Homo sapiens: one gene and its partner. The protein of the gene in region 1 purifies or fractionates together with the protein of each later gene. This does not show direct contact. Each region holds a gene or a part of one and is shown on either strand. Other genes may lie near its edges. The genes, in order: STAU2 and ZNF346.

Region 1 (17,256 bases):
CTGTATCCTGGGTTCAAGCGATTCTCTTGCCTAAGCTTCCTGAGTAGCTGGGACTACAGGCGCACGCCACCATGCCTGGTTAATCTCTGTATTTTTCATAGAGACAGGGTTTCACCATGTTGGCCAGGCTGGTCTCAAACTCGTGACCTCAAGTGATCCTTCCACCTCGGCCTCCCAAAGTGCTCAGATTACGGGCATGAGCCACCGCACCTGGCCCCCAGTTGGCTTTTTAAAATTTAATGTGTAAGCTGATACTAAAATTCATATGGAAATGCAAAGGACAAAGAACCAAAATTTTGGGGGAAAAAAAAAGACTCAGACTACCTAATTTCAAGATTATAAAACTATGGCATTCAAGACAGTGTGTGTAGTATTGGTATAAAGACAGACAAAGGGACCAATGAAACAGAATAAGTGCCCAGACACAGATATATATACACACATACACATACACACACACACACACACACACACACACACACACATACACACACACACACACACACACACACACACACACACACACGGTCACATGATTTTCAACAAAGGCACAAAAGGAATTCAGTGGGGTAGTCTTTTCAGCCAATAGTGTTGGGACAATTGGCTATTCATATGTAAAAAGAAAAAGAAAAAGAAAAAAAAATCTTCAAGCCAAACCTCATAACATTTATAAAAATAATTAACTCAAAATGCCTCACAGACGTAAATGTAATTTCTAAAACTATAAGATTTCCAGAAGAAAAATTTTTGTAACTTGGTTAGGTAACAATTTCTTAGATATAACACCAAAATCACGTTCCATGTAAAAAAACTAATAATAATAAAATGAAACAATATAAATAATAATAAAATAAACATAATAAATCTTCAAAATTAATAACTTCTGCTCTTTGAAAAAGACAAGTCACAGACTTGAAGAAAATATTTGCAAAGTACATATGTAATAAAGCACCTGTATCCAGAGTATATAAAGACCTCTAAAAATTCAATAATAAATTTATTATTATTTGAAATAAGCAATTAAAATTTGTTAAGCTGGCAAAAAATTTAAATAAACACTTCATCAGGCCTCATGTGACAGTAAACACATAAAAAATTCTTGATATCATCTGCCACAGAGGAAATGTAAATTAAAACCAAAATGAGATATCAATACCCATCTACATGAACATCTGAAATTTTAAAAACTATGCTAGGTGTTAGCAAGGATGTGAAACAATTGGAGTTATCACACACTGCTGATGAGAATGTAAAAGTGCACAGCTGCTACAACTTTGAAAAACTAAAGTTGACTATATACCTACTAAATGACCAAGCCATTCCACTTTGAAGGATTTACCCAAGAGAAATGAAAGCATATGCTCTTAAGATACACACACAAATATTCATAGCTGCTTTATGAGTAACAATCAAAAATTAGAAACAGCCCAAATATCCACTGACAGGTGAATGGATAAACAAGTGGTGGTATATCAATTCAATGAAATATTACCTGCAAAAAAACAGAACTACCAATTCATGCATGCAACAATAAGGATGAATCTCAAAATAATTATGCTGGGTTAAAGAAGCCAGCCAAAAAAAAGAGTGGTTTCTCGGCAAATTAAGGTAGAAGATTACAAAGGGGCATAAGGAAAATTCTGGGAGGAATGGATGGGTTCATTATCTTGATGGTGGTTATAGTTTTACACATGCAAACAAATACGAAAACATATCAAACAGTGCACTTTAAACATGTACAAGTCACTCTATGTCAATTATACCTCAATAAAGTTGTTTAAAGGAACTAAACAAATAACTTTAGAAAAACAAACATAGTAAAACTATAAGGTAGGAAATGGTCATACAAAACTAGTGATAGAGGTTGCCTAGGGAAGGTTGCATGAGGACGTGATGGAAGAAGAGCATACAGAGAGCTTCAAAGCTTATTGAGAAATGTTTTATACTCAAGTTGGGCAGTAGGTCTTTCTCACACTTACTTAGTATGCTTTTTAACTTATACACAAGTTTATATATAGCTTTTTGTATGTATTATAACATAAAAGCAAAAATTCAGGCCGGGCGTGATGGCTCATGCCTGTAATCTCAGCACTTTGGGAGGCCGAGGCGGGCAGATCACCTGAGGTCGGGAGTTCGAGACCAGCCTAACCAACACAGAGAAACCCCATCTCTACTAAAAAAAAACATACAAAAAATTAGCCGGGCATGGTGGCACATGTCTGTAATCCCAGCTACTAGGGAGGCTGAGGCAGGAGAATCACTTTAACCTGGGAGGAGGAGGTTGCGGTGAGCCAAGATCACACCATTGCACTCCAGCCTGGGCAACAAGAGCGAAACTCCGTCTCAAAAAAAAAAAAAAAAGCAAAAATTCTTGGAAACCAAATTATCTTTCTGCATATGAACTTTCTTCATGTATTTTTCCTAGAAATAAAAGTCTGCGTATATCATACGGTCAAAACTTTATTTCCACCTATGAAAATTTATTCTTGTCTCTACTATCTGTAGAGACATGGAGACATGGATAATCACTCTGTTACAGATTACACGTTACACTAAACTTATGTAAGAGCCACTATGCAGTCTTAGCTCTTCCGGATGATTGCTGCCATTTCATCTTGACAATCTGTAGTTTGGTGCTCCAGGTACAGCATCCAGGCAGATCCCTCATGGTCTTTCAAACTATGTTTAGGATTTTGGACTTTATCCAAAGAGTAAGAAAATTACTAAGAGGTTTTAAGCAGAGGCATGATATGATTAGACAGGTGTCTCTAAAAGATCATACTTTTTAAACGATCATTTGGTGTCAAGAGTACTTGTAGCCAGTTAAAACCTTAACTGTAGTAGTTCAGGTTAATAGATGTCTGTGAGTTGGACAAAAGAGTGGCAGAAGGGATGGAAAAAAAGGAACCAACTTAAAAAACATTAGGTGACAAGGCCAAGCACAGTGGCTCACTCCTGTAATCCCAGCACTTTGAGAGGCCAAGGCAGGGCGGATCACAAGGTCAGGAGTTCGAGACCAGCCTGACCAACATGGTGAAAGCCCGTCTCTACTAAAAAAACAAAAATTAGCCACGCGTGGTGGCGCACGCCTGTAATCCCAGCTACTCAGGAGGCTGAGGAAGGCAGGAGAATTGCTTGAACCCAGGAGGCGGAGGTTACAGTGAGCCAAGATCATGCCACTGCACTCCAGCTTGGGTGACAGAGCAAGACTCCGTCCCATAAAAAAAAAAAAAGAAAAAGAAAAAAAAGAAATATTAGCTAACAGAGTAATAGGACTTAATGACTGATAGGACGTAAGGGGTAAGAGAGAAGTTAAACGTCGGGCGCAGTGGCTCACGCCTGTAATCCCAGCACTTTGGGAGGCTGAGGTGGGTGGATCACAAGGTCAGGAGTTCAAGACCAGCCTGGCCGACATGGTGAAACCCCATCTCTACTAAAAATACAAAAATTAGTCGGGCATGGTGGTGGGCACCTGTAATCCCAGCTGAGGCATGAGAATCGCTTGAACCCAGGAGGCAGAGGTTGCAGTGAGCCGAGACAGTGCCATTGCACTCCAGCCTGGGCAACAAGAGCAAAACTCCATCTTCAAAAAAAAAGAGAAGTTAAAAATGACCCCCAGCAGTTTCAGCAGCTGGATGTTTGTGCCAGTCACTGAGATAAAGAATGCTGCAGGAGAAAGAGGTTTAGAAGGGAAAATGATGAATTTGGGCCCAAAACTTGAGGCACCTGTGAAATACTAAGTGGGGATGTCTAATAGGTAGTGCAGAGCATACGGTATTCAGGAATCATCTATTTAAAGATGAAATTGAACCCCCAGAAGTAGAAGAACAGCTTAGGGAAAGAGGAGGAAAAAGACTGAGAACTTCACTGTTGCAATGGTTAGATGAAGGGAAAGGAAAGAGCAAAGGAAACTTTTAGCTTTTGATAAAATACTGGTTTCAACTTCCACTTATATCCTGAAAAAAAAAATTAAATAAAGGGCCGGGCGCGGTGGCTCATGTCTGTAATTCCAGCACTTTGGGAGGCCGAGGCAGGTGGAACATGAGGTCAGGAGATCAAGACCAGCCTGGCCAACATGGTTAAACACTGTCTCTACTAAAAATACAAAAAAATTAGCTGAGCATGGTGGTGTGCACCTGTAATCCCAGCTACTCGGGAGGCTGAGGCAGGAGAATCGATTGAACCCAGGAGGTGGAGGTTGCAGTGAGCCGAGATCATGCCATTGCACTCCAGCCTGGCAACAGAGCGAGACCCTGTCTCAATTAAAAAAAAATTAAATTAATTATAAGGGGAATGAAGAGGGACTGATGAGAAAAGACAAATCCACATAATAATTTATAAGTCTAAGATTGAAATCCCAATGAAAAGGTAAAGAGAAGCTCTGAGTCTAGCACTAGAAGTAGTATGCCCAGTTCATGAAGATGTTAAATAAGTAGGAATGTGTTTCCAGTGGCATACTGTCTTTATTTCTGTTTAATTTGACTCAAAGAATGTCTCTGAGTTCCAAGGAAATTATTGTTGATATAGATTGCAATGAAAAGAATCAGATACATAAATCCAATTTAGATAATGATGGAGTTCAGTGTACATTAAGAATTGCTTGGGGCTGGGCACAGTGGCTCATGCCTTTAATCGCAGCACTTTGGGAGGCCAAGGTAGGCAGATCACTTGAGCCCAGGAGTTTGAGACCTGCCTGCACAACGTTGCAAAACCCTGTCTCTACAAAAAATACAAAAAATTAGCTGTGCATGGTGGTGTTGTGCCTGTAGTCCCAACTACTTGGGAGGTGGGAGGATCACTCGAGACCAGAAAAATCAAAGCTGCAGTGAGCTGAGATCCTACCATTGCACTCCAGCCTGGGCAACAAGTGAGACCCTGTTTAAAAAAAAAAAAAACAACTCTGGGTGGCAAAGGCAGGCAGATCACTTTAGGTCAGGAGTTCAAGACCAGCCTGGCCAACACAGTGAAACCCCATCTCTACCAAAAAATACCAAAATTAGCTAGGTATGGTGGCACATGCCTAGTCCCAGCTACTCTGGAGGTTGACATGGGAGAATCGTTTGAACCCAGGAGGCAGAAGTTGCAGCCAGCCAAGATCATGGTGCCACTGCACTCCAGCTTGGGAGACAGAGTTAGACCCCGTCTCAAAAAAAAAAAAAAAAAAAAGGCAGCGGGGGAGGGGATGACTTGGTTTCTTGCTCTGATTGAAATGAACTACCAGCACCCTTGACAATTAAGTTATTCCTTGGACAGCAAATCTTAAATCATCATTCTATATACCAATAAGGACAGTCTTGTAATAATTGTGTCCAGAACATTTGATCTCTAAGATTAGAAAGCCTTCTTTGTAGTCTCGTCTTATAGAGGAGAATTACATTTAAAAACAGAATGTAAACACAAAGACATTATCAGGGCAGTTTTACATGTTAACAGGATAACCCTATACAGTGACTCTGAAAATCCAAAAGTTCACAATTAACCAATATCAAATGGGCACTGGAGTCAGATGTGACAACTGGATCTGAAAGCTGATTCTGCTACAGGATCTTGGATAGGTTTCTTAAATATAAAGGGCCTCATCTGTAAGATGGAAATGAATGCTGCATCACAGAGTGATTAAGTGATCAAATGAGACAATGTGATTATTTTATTACTTTAAATAAAACCAAGGCAAATAATCATAGATATTTTACCTGCTTCCATTGAGTGTAACAAACTATAGACCCTCAATGTATAAGCCATACAAGGAAGTGAGGAATATGCTAAAAATCAGGATACTATTCCAAGCTGATCCATTTACTGACATATTATAAGGTATGAACATACTTAAAATTATCTAGATTCCAACTCATTATACACATGTTGTTCTCTCAAAATAATCTTACATTTCAGAGGGTATCTACAAGCTTTATTTTAACATAAGACAGACATGGCAAAAGTAACTCCAAGTGTGATGTATATGAGGAAAAATGCAGGAGGCTAACCTAGTCTGGGAGTAGGAGAGGACCAGAGGAGTTCCTAAAAAAGTCAAGTTTATGCTGAGATCTGAATGATGCATAGGAGGGAAGTTCTGGGATAATATTACTTATATACTGGAAGCAGTAGCAAATAACTGAGAATTCAAAATGTTTCTCCTGTCTCCCACCTCTGGGGAATAACATTTAAATAATAATCTTGCTTTTAATAGCTATAGTTAAAACAAGAGTTAGATTTATATCCTACTATAGAAATGTACAGATCTTTTCCAGCCTAACAGTTTATTATGATGATTATTATTATGATTATTATTATTATTATCATTTTGAGATGGAATCTCATTCTGTCACCAAGGCTGGAGTGCAGTGGCAGTGATCTTGGCTCACCTCAACCTCTGCCTCCTAGGTTCAAGCGATTCTCATGCCTCAGCCTCCTGAGCTGTAGCTGGGATTAGAGACGCATGCCACCACAACCGACTAATTTTTGTATTTTTAGTAGAGACCAAGTTTCGCCATGTTGGCCATGCTGGTCTCGAACTCCTAGCCTCAAATGATCCACCCGCCTCAGCCTCCCAAAAGTGCTGGGATTACAGGCATGAGCCACCGTGCCCAGCCTGGTTTGCCTGGTTTATTATTCTTAATTTATCAAGATAAAACTTAGTTTAATAGAGCAGACAGAAGTTATGTGACCAGTTTTGTGCCACCATTCCAACATAAAATGCTGTTCCTCCATCACAGAAAAGCCATAGATTTTATATATTAATAGATTTAAGAAAACAGTTCATGGATATATTCACATAAACATAAAATGTGAATAGGTAGTATTAGATACAAAATACCAATAGTTAATATGTGTTATTTATTATAGTATTTGCATTATCATTAATAACAATGAATACTTAATAATTACTAATGCATTTTGTGCATTGTTTCAGTTAATACTTATAACAATCCCATACAGCAAGGTCAGTTACTATTCCCACTTTATAAATGAAGAAATATTTTTAAAGTTAGGTAACTTGCTCAGGCCACAGGGATTCATACTCAGAACTGACTCCAAAGTTCATTCTCTTAATAGCTATATTCTACTCCTGACTGTGTAGGAGGAGCATATGAATGAAAGTGCCAGTCCTCTTTGGAACCACTATGACTCATGATAAGTGGATCTATTTGTATTTATTTTTAGTCTACCTTACATATAACATATAATTCCAGTTCAGGGAATGCATTACCTACTACATCTTCTAAGTGAAGTCATGTCAGTATTCATTAAAAACAAATATTTAAGTAGTTATTTTTGTATATATGTATATATGTATTTTAAATAAAGGTACAAAGGTATAAAACCTGTAAAAATACCTAAATTGTGCCATTGTGCAATCAAAAGAAATCCATTGAGATTAAATATATTTCTTATCTGTAATCCTTCATTTGTATAGCCTGATCAGAAGAAGGCTGCTAAATCAGTGAGGCTGAGCCAGCAACTAAAATGCTGGCAATTTAAGGCTTTCTCTGGAAACACAGAACTCTAGCTCCAGACATGTCATACGTGTCAAGCATTCACAGGCACTGTCCTGTACTAAATGCTGATTCATCTCATTCCTCTGATATTTACCTTGCTTCTCTTATTAATGTAAATAAATTCTGACCCAATAAAAGAGTCACAATATCTTGAAAAGCTGTGTGCTCTATATTCTTCTTTGGCAAGGTATACACATCTGAACGAATGGCAACAAAATAACACCATCTACTTCATATGGTTGCTATGTGGATTAAATGTGATTAAAGCATGCAAAGTGTTGGGACAAAGTCTGGCACATAGACTGCTTTATGATTTCCAGCTGCTGTAGCTATCATTGTTAGTATTAGTCACATGATTTTTTTGTGTGTATCCTGTTACCATTTCATGATATCCTAAGAAGTTACTATGCAACAGCCATGTGTGCAGAAAGAACACTGGATTAGAGATCAGAGCGGTTCAGGAGGTTTGACATGATTGCTGAATAAAAATGGGCAAACTCTTTGAACACGTTTTGTAAAATCTTATTTGTAAAATGAGGGCTAACATCATCTACCTTATACGGTCATGAGGGGGATTATAGTAAAGGTGACATGAATGGTAAAGCACTTTTTAAACAACAAAGAAATACATAAATACCTAAGGTATTATGATTATTTGATGTACAAATGCAGGTGCACAGGTATTTAAAAAGCAAAATAGAATTGTCATTAATTTATAGTCACATGTCCTGCCCTCATTTCAGGACTGTATATAGTCCATAAGTTCAGGGATCTGCCTTATAGAAAAATGCTTATCTATAGCTACTATAATATTTATTTAGTAAAACTGACTGATGTTCACAAATATAAACTTACCTTTACTATTGTTTTAGGGCGTTTTTTAAAAAATAGTTTTGGCTTTTCCACCACAGGAAGAGGTGGAAGTTTTTTAAGCTCCTGTAAGACGGTGGTCGCAGCGCGCTTCTTGGAGAGTTTTTTGCTATTTCCTTCTCCTTCTGCAGAGAACTCTCCTACTGACACTCGAGTAACAAAGCTTTTCATATGTGGTGGTCCACTTTCTTTAATAACCTATTAAATACAAGTAAAATATTAAATAATGGATAGGCACTTGAGATGTATTCTTAAAGTATGACTTAATATTCATATCAAAACCAAAATTAGTATTATGCCAAAATTATAGTATTTCTTTAAGAAAGCTATTATGAAGGTATTATACTGGGACTATTTATGACACTTGATGCTTAATGCAATTGAAACAAAAGAAATCTAAATAAACACATTTGATTCATAGTCAAAATGATTTATTACTTTAAAACAGATCATTCTAATTACAGTTTCTCCATGTCTTATGGAACACAAATTTAAGAACATCAAAGATACCATTAGATTAGATACCATATTAGATTGGTCATCTAGAATGATAATTTGTATATAATTACATACCTAACTTCCTCCTATGTACGAGTAAGTTGCTGGAGAAACGAGTAGTTCTATAAACCACAAGGCACTGTGCCTGTGGAAGCCTCTCAAAAACAGTCAATGGATAAAAATAAGCTGTTTTTGATAGGGATGTCAAAAGCTGTTTTACAGAAAGGGATATTTATTCTTGTGACACGATTTTAAAAAGGTAAGTAGGTATGCCAAAAAAATTCCTAGCTTTCTAGAGTAATGAGTTATGGACCTGTCAACTATGAATGTAATGTTCCTAAACCTTGTTTAATCTGCAATACTAAATATTTAACCTTTAATTGTTCACATTAGATCATCATTATAAACATCAGATATCCTACATCATAATATATTGATGTTCCCAAGAACACCTAAGAATAATAAAACTGTCTGTTCTTACTCATTGTAGCCTTTAAAAAAAATCCCAATAATTTTTTAGTATAAGCAATTACTTTTTACAGGTTTTCCAAATTTTCCGTATCATTTCTTGCTGGACCAATAGGATCTCAAGTACATTCTCTCCCTGACTTCCTCATTTTGCTGCTTTTAACAAGCTGTGGACCGAGAACTGAGATAATGCAACTTGTAAGAATGTGTCCAAGAGAAAGCAAACAGTTTCTCAGTCCAACTCAGATGATCCTGCCAATGAGTAAGATGTGGGAGCTTTCTAGTAGGTGAATGTCATACAATGTGAGGGAAGAATCTCCACAACTCTTTCAGCTTATTTCCTGGTTCTTGTCTACTTTCCAGACATGAGTTGTAAAATTAGTGACCTCTTAATAAAAGAAGTATTATAATAATTATTTTTTTAAGTTTTCTTTTTTGAAATTTCATACAATTTTATGAATATATTTGCAATATATTTATCTAGCTGTTAAGTCAAGAGTTGCTTCATTACATCTTACTTCTTGGTGATTTTGTTAGTTGAGGTTAAAGTGAAACATATTTTGGCCTCCACACAATTGAAAAAAAAATTGGATATTAACATGTATGTCACTAAATCTTAACTTGAATAAATTTAATTTAATCCTATTTAAAATGCCAAATCTTATAGGATACCACAAATTATCTATACCCAGAAAATAACTTTTATAATAAAAATTGAAATACCATGTATACAAAAGGCTTAATACAGAAAAGAAAAAAATCAGAAGGAATCTGTGTTATCATCATGATTTCTATTTTCACCAGGGCCTAGATCATTTCATAATACTGGGTTTGAACATATAGAAGCACACTAACTCTTGCAGGATACTAATACACCAGTTAATTTGATTTGTTTGTTTAAAATAACCACAGCAAGGGAAAAAATGGGAAGATCTCTACCGAGTACATACCTCAAAACTGACAGGCATATTTCGCTTCAGAGCAATTTCAAACACTAAGCTGATCTCAGACTTATTTGCATCTTTGTCATCATCCACATCCTTTCCTGATTCACCATTCTAAATCACAAAAAATAGGATAACACTGAATCTTGACATTATAACAAACTTTACTTTTATTCTACAGTCAAGATGGCCTATTTAAATTACAAGAAGAAACAACAAACTATATAGACTGTATCTGCTGCATTCTCCTGTAACCACAGCGGTCAAGGGCTTTGCTGCCAGGCTTTTTGTTACTCGATTTTTAGCTTGTTTTCCTTGAAGGAAAAGCATTTAATGCAGACTTTGGAAATCTTTTACTCAACCATACACTAATTTGAGTTTAGCCTACATCCCTAAACCTGGCACTCTTGTTTTAGAGTTCTCTACCCACCCAACCCCCAACACCCAGGAATTCCCCCACTGGTGTTCTAATGTGATCTATGAGGATGAAGTTACAGAAAGAGTACAGGATGCAAACCAGGAGCATCCTAATTGGAGATCTATGTCTGGCACAGGCATTGGTTTACTTTATTCACTTATTTAACACATACTTCTGGAAGGCCTCATATATGCTGAACTTACTATAACTATTAGAAAGAGACAGTATTCCTTGCTGTCAAGAACTGGGAGAGAATGATCTAGTGGGAAAACAGATCAAGAAATAGATAGGAGCTCTCATGAAAGAGTACAAGCAGAAAAACACCTAAGTCTGCCATTAAGATAAATATCAAAGGAGAAAGAAACAATTGGTTTGGGGAAAGGAAAACTGTAGAGGTTGAACTGTAGGGTAAGTAAGAAGCTCACTATGCTGCCGGGCATGGTGGCTCACGCCTGTAATCCCAGCATTTTAGGAGGCCGAGGCAGGCAAATCACGAGGTCAAGAGATCGAGAACATCCTGGTTAACACAGTGAAACCCCATCTCTGCTAAAAATACAAAAAATTAGCTGGGCGTGGTAGCATGAGCCTATGGTCCCAGCTACTCAAGAGGCTGAGGCAGGAGAATCGCTTGAACCCGGGAGGCAGAGGTTGCAGTGAGCTGAGATCCTGCCACTGCATTCCAGCCTGGGCAACAGAGCGAGGCTCCATCTCAAAAAAAAAAGGAAGCTCACTATGCTATGTATAGGACATGCCTGAGCTAGAGATACTATTTTGAAGTCAATCAAGAAAGTAGCTGAAGCCATGAGAATGAGTGAGATTACTTAAGAACAGCCTCAATGTCATTTGTAAAACAAAAGAGGACTGAAAAATCCATAAAATCTCTTCCACTTTAAATCCTTGATTCTAGATTCACACAATGTAATCTATATTCAATAAACATAGTATGAAATATAAGCCAAATCAATGTTATTTCTCATCCTCATATACATCCCCAAATCCCCAGTTGCCTGGGAAGTGAACTCAAGGGAAGAACCAAAGCTCTGAAAGGTAGTCACCCTGCAGGAACACATGAAGCAAGACTGTCAGGTCTTCACTCTAGTATTCTTCCCTATCAGAACAGATTATTTATTTTAATTATAAAATGCTCTGATTTGTTTCACTGGGAAAGTAGAAAGAACAGACTGTCACATGCAGCAGCACCACACCTGAGGAGATCTTTCTGGAATAGGTTCATTCTGCAGTGCTTGGAGGGCTTTCATTGCAGCATTGTGTCTAGCAGCTTGTCGAGTCTTTCCTTCCCCAAAAAATTCATTATTTCCTACAGTGAGCTGAACATAAAAGATCTTAGGCACTGGGCAATGATACCTAAAATAAGAAAATAAAAACATTAAAGTTAGCTTAATAAAACCACTCTATAATCATTCATAAGATTTGTTTAAAATGATACCAATTATATAATGTGCTATACTCTTAATAAAACTTTAACCTCAAAAACATACTTTTTTGATAAAATGTGAGTCAATACATCTATAGATAATAGCTTATACTGATCTCCATGAAAAACATATATAGAATACAACATTAAACATAAAACAATACAGTAAAAATTATTTAATTATATCACAGGATACTTCCTGGTGAGAAGTTTTCGGTCAGATTTTGACAGAAGTAAGAGAACAGTCTGATGAAGCTACAACAGAGGCTGGGTCAGGCAAGACTGTTCAGGCGACAACATGTAGATTACCGTGCTTTTTGCAGAAGATAATTACGATTAGAAATATAGATTAGAAATGGACCGACTACAATGCAAAGTAATAAGGAGAGCAGATTCAGCATAAGAATAAGGAGTTTAGGCCAGTTCTTAAGCAGGAAGTGTTATATTCATACATTTTACGGTGCCTGAGGTAATGAGGCTAATGAGGTGTGACTAAAAAGCTGCAATAATGCAGATATGAAGAGATAACAGAGAATGTAAGAAGAAACAAAAAAACCAAAAGAAATTAAGCAGAAAAAATTAAGATATGTAATAAAATCCATTAATTCAACAATTATTTATGGAGCGTCTTCTATTTGACAGGGGACTATGACAATGAACAACAACACTTAGAGTGGGGAAGATAAACAATAAGAAAAATATGTAGAATACCTAGTATGTTAGATGTAGATGTAAGAAAAAGTAAAGAGGAAAGGGTTCAGAAGTGTCAGGGAGGTAGGTTTTAGATAGGGTGGCCAAGAGAAGTTTCATTGAGAAAATATCAATTGTGTAAAGACATGAAATAAGTTAGGGAACAAGCCATGCAGATCTCTGGGACAGTGCATCTGAAGCAGAGAGTATACCAGCAGCAAGGGCAGCGAGGCGGGAGTGTGCCACACATGTTCAAGTAACTCGGAGGAAGCCTGTCTGGCAAAAGTTTAGGGAGACAGGAAAAGCTAGATGAGAAGAGGTGGCAAGATTCCATAGGGCCTTCCCTACAAATTGCTGTAGGCATTTTTAACCCAAGTGAAATGACCAGCCACTGGAAGGTTCTGCACAGAGAAGTGACAAAATCTGACTTATCTCTTGGAATAACCATCTGACTACTATTTTGAGGACACACTGTAGGGGAACAATGCTGGAAGCAAGGATATCTAATAGGCTACTGGGATAATCAAGGGGAAAGGTGACAGTGGCCTGAACTAGGGTGTAGCAATGGAAGTAACGAGAAGTCATTGTTTCTAGATGAATTTTGAAAGTAGAGATGATGGGTTTACCCAAAGACTGGCTATGGAATATGAGAGGGGAGTCAGGGATGACATCACGGTTTCGGAACTAAACAACTGGAAAATGGAGTACCCATCTATTGAGACAGTGAAGATTGCAAAAGAAATGGGTTTGCTGGGGGTGGATTTCAACAGCTCTGTTTTGGGGATATTCAATTATTAGACCTATTAGATATCCAAGTGTAGATGTCAACTGGACAACTGAATTTATTAGTCTGGACTTCAGGAAAGAGGTCCAAGATAGAAATAATATTTGGGAATCATCAGTATATAGGTGGTATTTAAAGGCATAATATAATGAGAACTCTGTGGGAGGGTGTGATGGGAGAAAAGCCAAGCAAGCACGATGTCCTTCCTGAAAGTCAAACAGGAAAAAAGTCTATCAAGGAGAAGGGAGGGATTAACTGGATCTAATGCTACTAACAGGTCAAGTAAAATGATGACTGAGAAATATGACCACTGAATTGAGCAACTTAGCAAAATAAACAGAATCGATTTTGATGGAATGGTGGATTTACAACTGCAATGCTGAAAAAAATGAGTTAAAAATCACTCCAGTCCTAAAAAATGTTTGTTTCCAAGCAAAAAGAAGTCCAATTGAGGTCCTACTATATTTTAGATAATTACTGCACATCCAAGTAGTGACGCTCTATGTCCAACCTGAGATAAACTGGATAGAGCGCATCATGTAAGCATTCACCAGGCAGATGGGACTAATCAATGAAGGTTTACTGAAGGTGAAGAACTAGAAATGTTGATTGGTACTGAAGATGCAGATTTGTGAGGCAATAATTGAAACCATGCAAGTGGATAAGCACCTGGAAAGGGTAAGTGTAAAGGAATCAAAAAAGAGCCTAAGGCTCGGAACTGATTAATGCCTGTGATCAAAGTGCAAGGGAAACAATAGACAGCAGTGAAAGAGATGAAAAAGGGTCAAAGTTAGAAGAAAAATTACAACACAATGTCAGGGACAGGAGTAATTAACAGTGTCAAATGAAGGAGAGGAATTCAGAGTATGAAAAAAAAGAAAAAGTTGCTGTTTTAAATGCTTAACCTAAAATCAATTTTCTTGAACTACAGTTTTCTATTAATTTAAGATAACGCATTTTAAATGTTTTTATTATAAACAAAGATTAAAAAGCATTAAAAAACTATAATCTTTTTTGCTTTTTGGTTACAACAATTAAATATTGTGTACTGAAGTGCACAATTTCCTATCATCTATTTTATTTTAATCCCTTTAATGCAGAAATTTATTTTAATTCCTTAATGCAGAAATCTGACAGACTAATATGAATAACGCCGGTCATCTTCACTTCATATTTCTCAAAATTCAATTTTCCCACCTCCACATAACTTTGTTTATTTTTAACTGGTGGTACTATAAAACTTTAAAACAGACAACTTGAAATCAGAAATTTACTCCTGAAGTGAGATCTCATATGGCAAACTTTCACCATAGAGCAAATGTTTACAATTAATTATAAACTTCTGAAAATAGAAGGTCCACAACTGAAATGCTAACAGACCTTTAACTACAGTAGAGGGAGTGGGCGCCACTATAATCACTAAGGCCTGCTGACAATTACAAAACTCATTTTGGTTTGCCACAGAGACAAACAAAATTTCTGTTCATTGTAACTTTACTGGAATATGATGTCATAACACATAACCATACTGAAACAATCTGCTGATTTTCTGGCCAAAATATTAATTGCACACCAAAGAGCCCTTGGGGCCTCTCCCTTTTTGGTCATCAAATATGGCTCAATGTATGTGTATGTGCATGCATGTGGATATATATGTATATATAAATTATATTGTGTAAGTATCAGAGGAAAAATTAAGTATGTTGCATTTTTAACATAAAAGGTAAAAATTCTAGCACTAACAACAGGAAATACCAAGACTGGATGCCTGACTTATTTCATTCTGTTTCACTTCATCCTCTTACTTAACAATGATTCTTAATAATATACCCCACATGGTTTGAATACCTTATATATCACATCTCCTCATACCATCATGACAATCAAGATTAGCCAGAGCACTCTCATTAATTGCATCCAGATTGAATTACAGGGGAGATGATGCAGAATGGTTTTTGTGTGATAGGTCTGGTCTCAAAATACTTACTTCCTTTGGTAAAGAAATACCCAAAGTTTATTAATTATAAAGATCGATATGTTCTATTTAGTGGATTTCCTTCTACTTTCACTTATTTCAAGTATTAAGCTCACTTTTAGTAAGGTATTTGATATGGTTTGGCTGTGTCCCCACTCAAAATCTCATCTTGAATTGTAATCCAAATTGTAATCTCCATGTGTCGTGGGAGGGACCTGGTTGGAGGTTAAGTGAATCATGGGGGCGGTTTCCCCCATGGTATTCTCATGATAGGGAGTGAGTTCTCACAAGATCTGACGGTTTTATAAGCGTCTGGCATTTCCCCTGCTGGCATTCATTTCCTCTCCTGCTGTCCTGTGAAGAGGTGCCTTCTGCCATCCTGAGGCCTCCCCAGCCATGCAGAACTGTCAGTCAATTAAACCTCTTTTCTTTATAAATCACCCAGTTCAGTCTCGGGTATTTCTTCACAGCAACATGAGATCAGACTAACACAGTAGGTATAATAAGTGATGTACATATTTTTACAAATTAGTATATTTACCTAAGCAGACATAGCTATTCTTGAATGATTTTTCTCAAGTAGAATTCTGTGGTCAATGTTTAGATCCCCATAATGATTACTGTTAAAAGATGAACCACGAAAACTCCCCCATCCAAGTTATTTAAGTTTCAGGGTCAAATGGTTGCATTTCTTTTAAATCCCAAAAAAGTCTTGGGATTTGAAAGATCCTACTTTCATCAGAATTATCTTCCATGCTTGTTAAAAATGAAGATTCCTGTGATCCAAGCCTGATCTGCTGCATCAGAGTTTCTGAGGATGGAACCATAATTTTAAGCTGCCCTGCTGACTCTCTGCACGATAAAGGTCCAGGATTATCACCACATCCCACAATGTGGCCCATGTGACTTGGCAATTGCTTCAGAGTCCATTCAAGGAGACCACACACAATGCTTACTGCACAATGGTTAGGTCTTTCTCTCTTTTTTTTTTTTTTTTTTTTCCTGAGACGAAGTCTCGCTCTGCTGCCCAGGCTAGAGTGCAGTGGCTAGATCTCGGCTCCCCGCAAGCTCCGCCTCCCGGGTTCTCGCCATTCTCCTGCCTCAGCCTCCCGAGTAGCTGGGACTACAGGCGCCCGCCACCATGCCCAGCTAATTTTTTTTTTTTTTTTTTTTTTGAGACGGAGTCTCGCTGTCGCCCAGGCTGGAATGCAGTGGCGCAATCTCGGCTCACTGCAGGCTCCGCCCCCTGGGGTTCACGCCATTCTCCTGCCTCAGCCTCCCGAGTAGCTGGGACTACAGGCGCCCGCCACCTCGCCCGGCTAATTTTTTGTATTTTTAGTAGAGACAGGGTTTCACTGTGTTAGCCAGGATCGTCTCAATCTCCGACCTTGTGATCCGCCCGCCTCGGCCTCTCAAAGTGCTGAGATTACGGGCGTGAGCCACCACGCCTGGCCAGGTCTTTCATATCTCTTTTTCATTTAATCCTCACTACAGCCTGGTGAGGCAGGAGATGTCCCCAAGGTCACCTTAAGAGGTAACAAATGTCCCCAAAAGAGTTGCTGGGAACCAAATTTAAGTCTGCCTAACTGCAGAGTCCAGGAAATTCCGTATGGAGCTTCCTAAAAATCTGCTTTATCTTCTTCCATTTTTGTTAATTTTTGTTTATTAAATTGTCTAT
Region 2 (7,000 bases), on another chromosome or scaffold:
TCATTGTCATCATGATCTTTGACTGTGTGTGAACCCCTAAGGGCAAGAAAGTGTTCATCTCTAGGTCCCTTTACCAACAGGGCTGGCCACACAGCTGGTAGGGACTACAAAGTGGTCTTGCAGGCCGGAGGCTCACGGTATGATAGCCCACTCACCCCCTGCCCTTCATTTCCTTGCTTGGTAGATGGGGCTGAATCTGACATACTAGGTGGCTTAGAAGGACTCTGGGGAATTGCTGAGGCAGTCTGATCATGGGAAGCTGAGAACCTCCCTTGGGGCTGTGTAGAGCCTTTCACAGCTGACCAGGAGCAGGGGCTGAGTGGCACTGAATGGGAGCTGAGGCTGCCTGGGCCCCTTCCTCAAATCTGGCTGTCTACAGTAAAGGATGGACAAAGAGCTCTTGAGGCCATAACATTCCTTTCTTTTTTTAAATTTTAAAAATTATTATTTTTAGAGACAGGGTCTTGCTCTGTTGTCCAGGCTGGAGTACAGTGGCATAATCATAGCTCACTGCTGCCTTGAACTCATGGTTAAAGCGATCCTCCTGCCTCACCCTTCCAGGTAGCCAGGACTACAGGAATGCACCACCACACCTGGCTACCTTCTTTTAAAATTTATTATTTATTTATTTTGAGACAGGAGTCTCACTCTGTCACCTAGGCTGGAGTGCAGTGGCACGATCTTGGCTCAATGCGACCCTCCGCCTCCCGGGTTCAAGCAATTCTCTTGCCTCAGCCTCCCAAGTAGCTGGGACTACAGATGTGTGCCACCAGGCGCAGCTGATTTTCGTATTTTTTATAGGGACGGGGTTTTGCCATCATGTTGGCCAGGCTGGTCTCGAACTTCTGACCTCAGGTTATCCACCTGCCTTGGCCTCTCAAAGTGCTTGGATTACAGGCGTGAGCCACGGCGCCCAGCCTTCAAATTTATTTTTATAATTTTTTTTTTTTTTTAGATAGAGTCTTGTTATGTTGCCCTGGCTGGAGTGCAGTGGTTATTCACAGGCATGATCACAGCATACTTCAGGCTGGAACTCCTGGGCTTGAATGGTCTTTCTGCCTTAGCCTCCTGAGCAGCTGGGACTATAGGTGCATGACGCCGCACCTGGCCATAACACTCCTTCTCAGCTCATTTTTGAGTCATGAAAAATGCTCTTTCAAGAATCACCAGGCCTATGATAAGTCCCATGGAACAAACCTATCACTGTGTAAGAGCTGAGCAGGAGAAAACCATCTCTCCTCATACACCTCATTTGTTCATTCAATAAAAATTCATGACACACCACTATGGACATCAGGAAGTAGAGATGAATAAGGCTGGGTCTCTGCCCTAAGTGATTAGCCTGGAAAGCCATACTGGACACAGTGTCCATACTGGCCTCCTTGTCTCCTTTCCTGCCCCTCCCTGCACTCCTTTACATAACAGCCAGAACAGTTCTCTCAAACATAAAGCAGATCCCCAGCTTAAACCCTTTAAAGACCTTCATGAGGCCCTATGTGACAGGAGAAGCAGGAGAAGGTGGTGGATGAGAAGATGAGGCTGTACTGAGTTCAGGGCACCTGAACTCAAGGGAGACTTTCACAGGGTGCTCGACTCTGTCCCAACTCCTAAAGTGACTACTGGGGACTACTGAGGTCTGAATGGGGTGGGGGTGAGGGGTCAAGACAGACATACTAGATCCAATGGCAATATGGCTCAAAACCCTAGGTCTGTTAAGTTGTAGTCTGGCCCATGAGGGAAATTCTTTATTTGGATGCTTCAGTGACCAAGAGACAGAGCATTAGGCACACACAGAAGCACACACATACACACAAACACACACACACACACACACACATCCACACACAATATGCAAAGCAAAGGCATTTCACAGGTGAAGGGATAGGGAGTGGGGGAAGGAGGCCACGAGAGCAGCTAGGGGCTTCTTTGACACAATGAAGAGAAGCCTCTGATGGTGACACTCCTTGGAATTCTCGTCTCAAGGTTACAAGGAAAAATCTATCCGTGTGGACTCAGTCCCAGGCCATAAAACACAGCAAAGATAGAGAAATCTGGGTGTGGGGCCTGGGAAACGCCTGTTCCTCACTGTAGAAACCTGCATCAGCTCTCTCTTTCTTTCCCTGGGACCCAGAAATCACCCGGTGGATGATGGGGAAGGCTAGCACCACAGCAAACTGGGCAAGTGGTCCGCTGCACAAGGGGGAAGAGAGGGCTAGTAGGGCCGAGGGTAGCAATGAACCTCACAGCTAGCGGGCATGAGGCAGTCTGCCTTTAGGGGCAGAACCCTCAGGGAGACTTGCATGTGGGGCACTTTCCCGTGTAACCTAGGGTCAGAGCACCTCTGATGGAGGAGGGGAAAGGTCCCATCCCCATTGGAGTGTCCTATGATCTCAGTGGACATGGAGGCCGCCCCCAGCCCCAGCTCGTTGCCAACTGCTGCAGATCCTTAGCACCATTCAGGAACTGTGGAGGGGGCAGCGGGGGTAGCAATGCTCCGCCAAGATTGTGTCACTGCTCCAGGAGGATACTTCACAGTTGGCAGAAACCTGCGCAACTGGCCATATCTGGTCTAAGACTCAGGAAAGCCTGCACCTTCTGGGGGAAGGCAGAGTGTCGTATTAGCTCCAAGCTCCCATGTTGCAGCCATTTCCTCTGTTTCCTGCCCTGCCCCAGGTTTGGCATGAAAGTTCCAGGTTTTGCTGGAAATGTCTAGGGCCCAGAGAGATCTCTGCTCTTTAGTTGCAAGAACTGGCCCAAAACTGACCTTTAGAGGAAAGACAGGTGGCAGGGGCCTCAGCACCTAAGGCCCAGAGGGGTTGGGAAATGGGGAAAGCCACCCTCCAAACTACCACCCCGCGAGACCCCGAGTCTCTCAATACCCTTGCCTCCCCTGTCATGACCTACAGGACCCCTGCCAAAGGGGAGCAGCAGGAGTGAATTAGCCCGGACCAATGAGAGGCTGTCTGTGGCCCAATCCTGCCTCAGGCCCGTGTACTTTCCTGGTGAGAACAACGAGCAAGAGGGAGCCAAGGGCTGAGCAGTCACGGGAAGCTGGCTCATGGCTGGCCCAATATGGGATGCTGGGCAGAATCACCTCTAGTCTTCCAAGGTGGTTGAGTCTTTCTGAATGGGTTGCCTTTGCATTGGAATCTGGCCCAGGGATGATGCCACTGTTTTTGGTGACCTGTATTTGAGAAGGAACAAAGGAAGAGGGTCAGTGTGTGGCAGCTGTATTGGCCTACTGCAATGATAGCACTGCCCTTCCAGGGCCTTGGAGTAATAGACAGGACACCTTTCCTTCACTGAGGTCCACTGTGGGCTGGCAGAATGCTGGATGCTTAGCTTCCATCATTCCATCCTCATGGCAATTCTGCAAGGTGAGAAACAGCACCCTCATTTTACATACAAGGAAACTAAAGTTCAGAAAGCTTAAGTGGCTGGCCCGAAGTATGTTTTTAGGTGGTAGGTTCAGGACTGTAGCCAATGCCTTTTCACTATACCAAACCACTGCCTACAGGGCCCTATAAAAACTCATTCCATTTGGTAGTGGCAGAGTAAAATGAATGGGCTTCGAAGTCAAACAGGCTTGAATCCCAGGTCTAACTGCAAGTAACTAAGTGACCTTGGGGAAGTCAATTAACCTATCTGATAATTAGGCTTTCTTTGGTTGTAAAAGATGGGTTTGGGAGGGGGTATCCTAATTTCAGACCTTTTGTTGAGAAATTTAATGAGACTCAATCAGGTATTCAACAAATTATAGCTTTATTCTTACAGAATTAGAGGCTTTTTTAAAATTTTGAGACAGGATCTCACTCAGGCACCCAGACTGGAGAATAGTGGTGCCATCATAGCTCACTGCAACTCATGGCTCACTCCAACTCCTGGGCTCAAGCTATTCTCCCACTTCAGCCTCTCAAGTAGTTGGGACTACAGGTGTGTGCCGCCACACCTGGCTAACTTTATTTTTTGTAGATGGGGTCTCACTACATTGCCCATGTTGGGAGAATTACAGACTTATTGACTTGCCCAAGGTCACACTGCTGGAAAGTTTAGCAAGAGAGCAGCGAACAACACTGGCAATTTCAGGTGTGGGTAGCCCCAGGGAGGGGCTCTGGTTGGCTTCAGGTTGTCTACTGTAACTGCCATCAGCCAGGCTGCAAGGGAGGTATGTATGCTGAAACACTGTGGGGCTGAGTTGCTGGGGCAACTCAAGTCTACACCTAAGAGTCCCCCAAAGTAAAAAACATATTCACAGGTAAAGAGGATGATCTGCTACAGTGTGAGAGAGGAGACTCCAGGCAGAGCAGAGAGAACTAAGGACATTTTTTACACCAATACTCTGTGTTTCTACCACCTTTAAATCATTCAGCTCAATGAGCAAAGCAAAATCAATGACCAAAGTCAAAGCAATCATTTCGGCAGCTTGCCTGCCTGAAACTCAGTTTCCTTGTCTGTAAAATGGGAATTCTTCTACCTATCTCAGAAGGTTATGCTGGGGCCAGGTGCAGTGGCTCATGCCTGTAATCCCAGCACTTTGGGAGGCCGAGGCAGATGGATCACTTGAGCTCAGGAGTTTGAGACCAGCCTGGCCAATATGGTGAAACCCCATCTCTACTAAAAAAAAAAAAAACGTTATGTTGTGGCACACTGCTCATACCACACGTTTCCCTTCGGAGAGGAAGGGACAGAACCATGTGGGCCCTCCAGGCCAGGCCCTATTCTCTTCATATCAGTGGTGCCATAGCCTACTTCTGAGCCTGACGCCTTGGGAAGAGCATGCTGTGAGCCAGACAGGCTTCAGTTTGAATCATGACCTTGCTTCATTCACATCACCACTTTGAATGCTGGTTGTCTATATGTATAAAATGGGAATAATTATCTCTTCCTCTCAGGGTTGGAAGGATTACCTGAGAAAATCTGCTTGACATATGGCCTGCAACAGAAGAGGGGCTCAATGAATGTTAGTCACTTCCAAGATTACCATGAACAGGTAACTCTCTGTTCACCTGGTTCCTTCAAAACCCTTATCACAATCTGTGATTATTGGTTGTTTACTTGCTTAGTCTGTTTCCTCCCACCAGGCTGTAAGGTCAGGAGAGCAGAGACTGGGTCTGTCTTGGCCATCATTCAGAAGATGCTCAATATATATTTGATTAAGGAATGAGAGGGCCTGGTCATATTTGATAATGACCTATAGAGGGAACTCCTGCCAGAAAAGGAGAGGGTCTCCAGGCCAGTGGAAAAGCACTTCCCCAGTCAGAGTGCTACAGACTAGGACAGCCAGGTGTTCTTAGGGTCCCACCAAGGAAATCATGTATGCTTCTCTATTAAACCCTTGAGTCCAACAGGTCTAAAGGCTGGGCAGAAGCTGGTGGAGAAATACATATAGAGGAGACACTTGTTCCTGTTACATGATTCATCTTCTGTTCACTGAAAAAAGACTGCCAGGATTCCATTTCAGCCGAGAACTACCTGGCTTTGTTCTGATGCAGAAGTCCTGAGCTCCTGCTATGGATCCTAGAATTTCAAAAAATGGTTACTTACTGGTTCTTGTGTTTGAAGCCGCTGACATGAGCTTGGTACTGTTCTATGGAGTTCAGCACTATCTTACATGTTTTGCAGGGGTAGCCCTTTCCAGCTGAAACACATCAAAATCAAGATCTTAGTAATCCAGAAAGAAGGAACCTGAAGACCGTTGCTTTTCAGAGTGTACAAATGCCCTTCTAAGGACGGACAGGTGAGGCGAGGTGAGGTTGCTGGCCCTGATGAGAACCCAGAGGCCACAGTGCTAAGGAGGCACAGACTGTGTGCCTATGTGCTTCCTGGGGTTGGGAAGATCCTCATTCCTGTGTCCCTCGTTCCAGCGTAGAGCCTGGCCCAGACTAGCTGTCTGCTGAGTGATAAAAGAATGACAGAACAGAGAGGTGACATTTGGTCTGTATTTCTACCTTGACTGTGCTAAGTGGCCTCATTAAGGACGTCCTTCACTGAGAGATCTCTGGGAAGGTGCCACTCTCCTAGGGCTTGCGGTAACAGTAATTAGTGAGAACGCTGGTTATGATAATCAATCTGTCTTTCTACCCTGGGAATCACAGACCCTATCTCAGGGCTGCTCCAATGACAAAGTGGCTTTTCCCACATGGTCTGGTAGTGAGGGAGGAGCCAGGATAGGGAACTGAACTGCTGGTTCTGCTTTCAAGTGATCTTAGCTAGATCCTTTCCTTTCTTCTGATCCTTTTCTTTTCTTTTTTTGAGACGGAGTCTCGCTCTGTGGCCAGGCTGGAGTGCAGTGGCGCGATCTTGGCTCACTGCAACCTGTGCCTCCCGGGTTCGAGGGATTCTCCTGCCTCAGCCTCCCAAGTAGCTGGAACTACAGGCATGTGCCACCACACCCAGCTAATTTTTGTATTTTTGGTAGAGACAGTGTTTTATCATGTCGGCCATGATGGTCTCTCTCTCTTGACCTCATGATCCATCCGTCTAGGCCTCCCAAAGCGCTGGGATTATAGGCGTGAGCTACCGCACCCGGCCTGATCCTTAGCTTTTCTTACCCTCAAACCAATTACACCGCAACTTGTTTTTTTTTGAGACAGTCTTGCTCTGTCGTCCAGGCTGGAGTGCAGTGGTGCGATCTTGGCTCACGGCAAGCTCCGCCTCCCGGGTTCACGCCATTCTCCTCCCTCAGCCTCCTGAGTAACTGGGACTACAGGCGCCTGCCACCACACCTAGCTAATTTTTTTTGTATTTTTAGTAGAGATGGGGTTTCACTGTGTTAGCCAGGATGGTCTTGATCTCCTGACTTCGTGATCCACCCGCCTCGGCCTCCCAAAGTGCTGGGATTACAGGCGTAAGCCACCACCCCAGCCCACAACTTATTTATTTATTTAGAGATGGAGTTTTGCTCTTGTTGCCCAGGCTGGAGTGCAATGGCGTGATCTCTGCTCCCTGCAACCTCTGCCTCCCAGGTTCAAGCGATTCTCCTGCCTCAGCCTCCCAAGTA

What was found.
Region 2: the proteins of STAU2 (region 1) and ZNF346 purify together in Homo sapiens (affinity purification with mass spectrometry; 2 studies listed by BioGRID and IntAct, with this or other methods). This does not show direct contact.

The regions. Positions count from the first base shown.
Region 1 is NC_000008.11:73,605,393-73,622,648, forward strand, and holds part of STAU2 (double-stranded RNA-binding protein Staufen homolog 2), read right to left. Parts: intron 12,060-17,256; coding exon 11,900-12,059; intron 10,391-11,899; coding exon 10,283-10,390; intron 8,565-10,282; coding exon 8,352-8,564; intron 1-8,351. UniProt on the Homo sapiens protein: RNA-binding protein required for the microtubule-dependent transport of neuronal RNA from the cell body to the dendrite.
Region 2 is NC_000005.10:177,060,696-177,067,695, reverse strand, and holds part of ZNF346 (zinc finger protein 346), read right to left. Parts: intron 5,639-7,000; coding exon 5,545-5,638; intron 3,185-5,544; coding exon 3,097-3,184; coding exon of another isoform or gene 2,939-3,096; 3' UTR 2,596-2,938; coding exon of another isoform or gene 2,570-2,595; 3' UTR 1-2,569.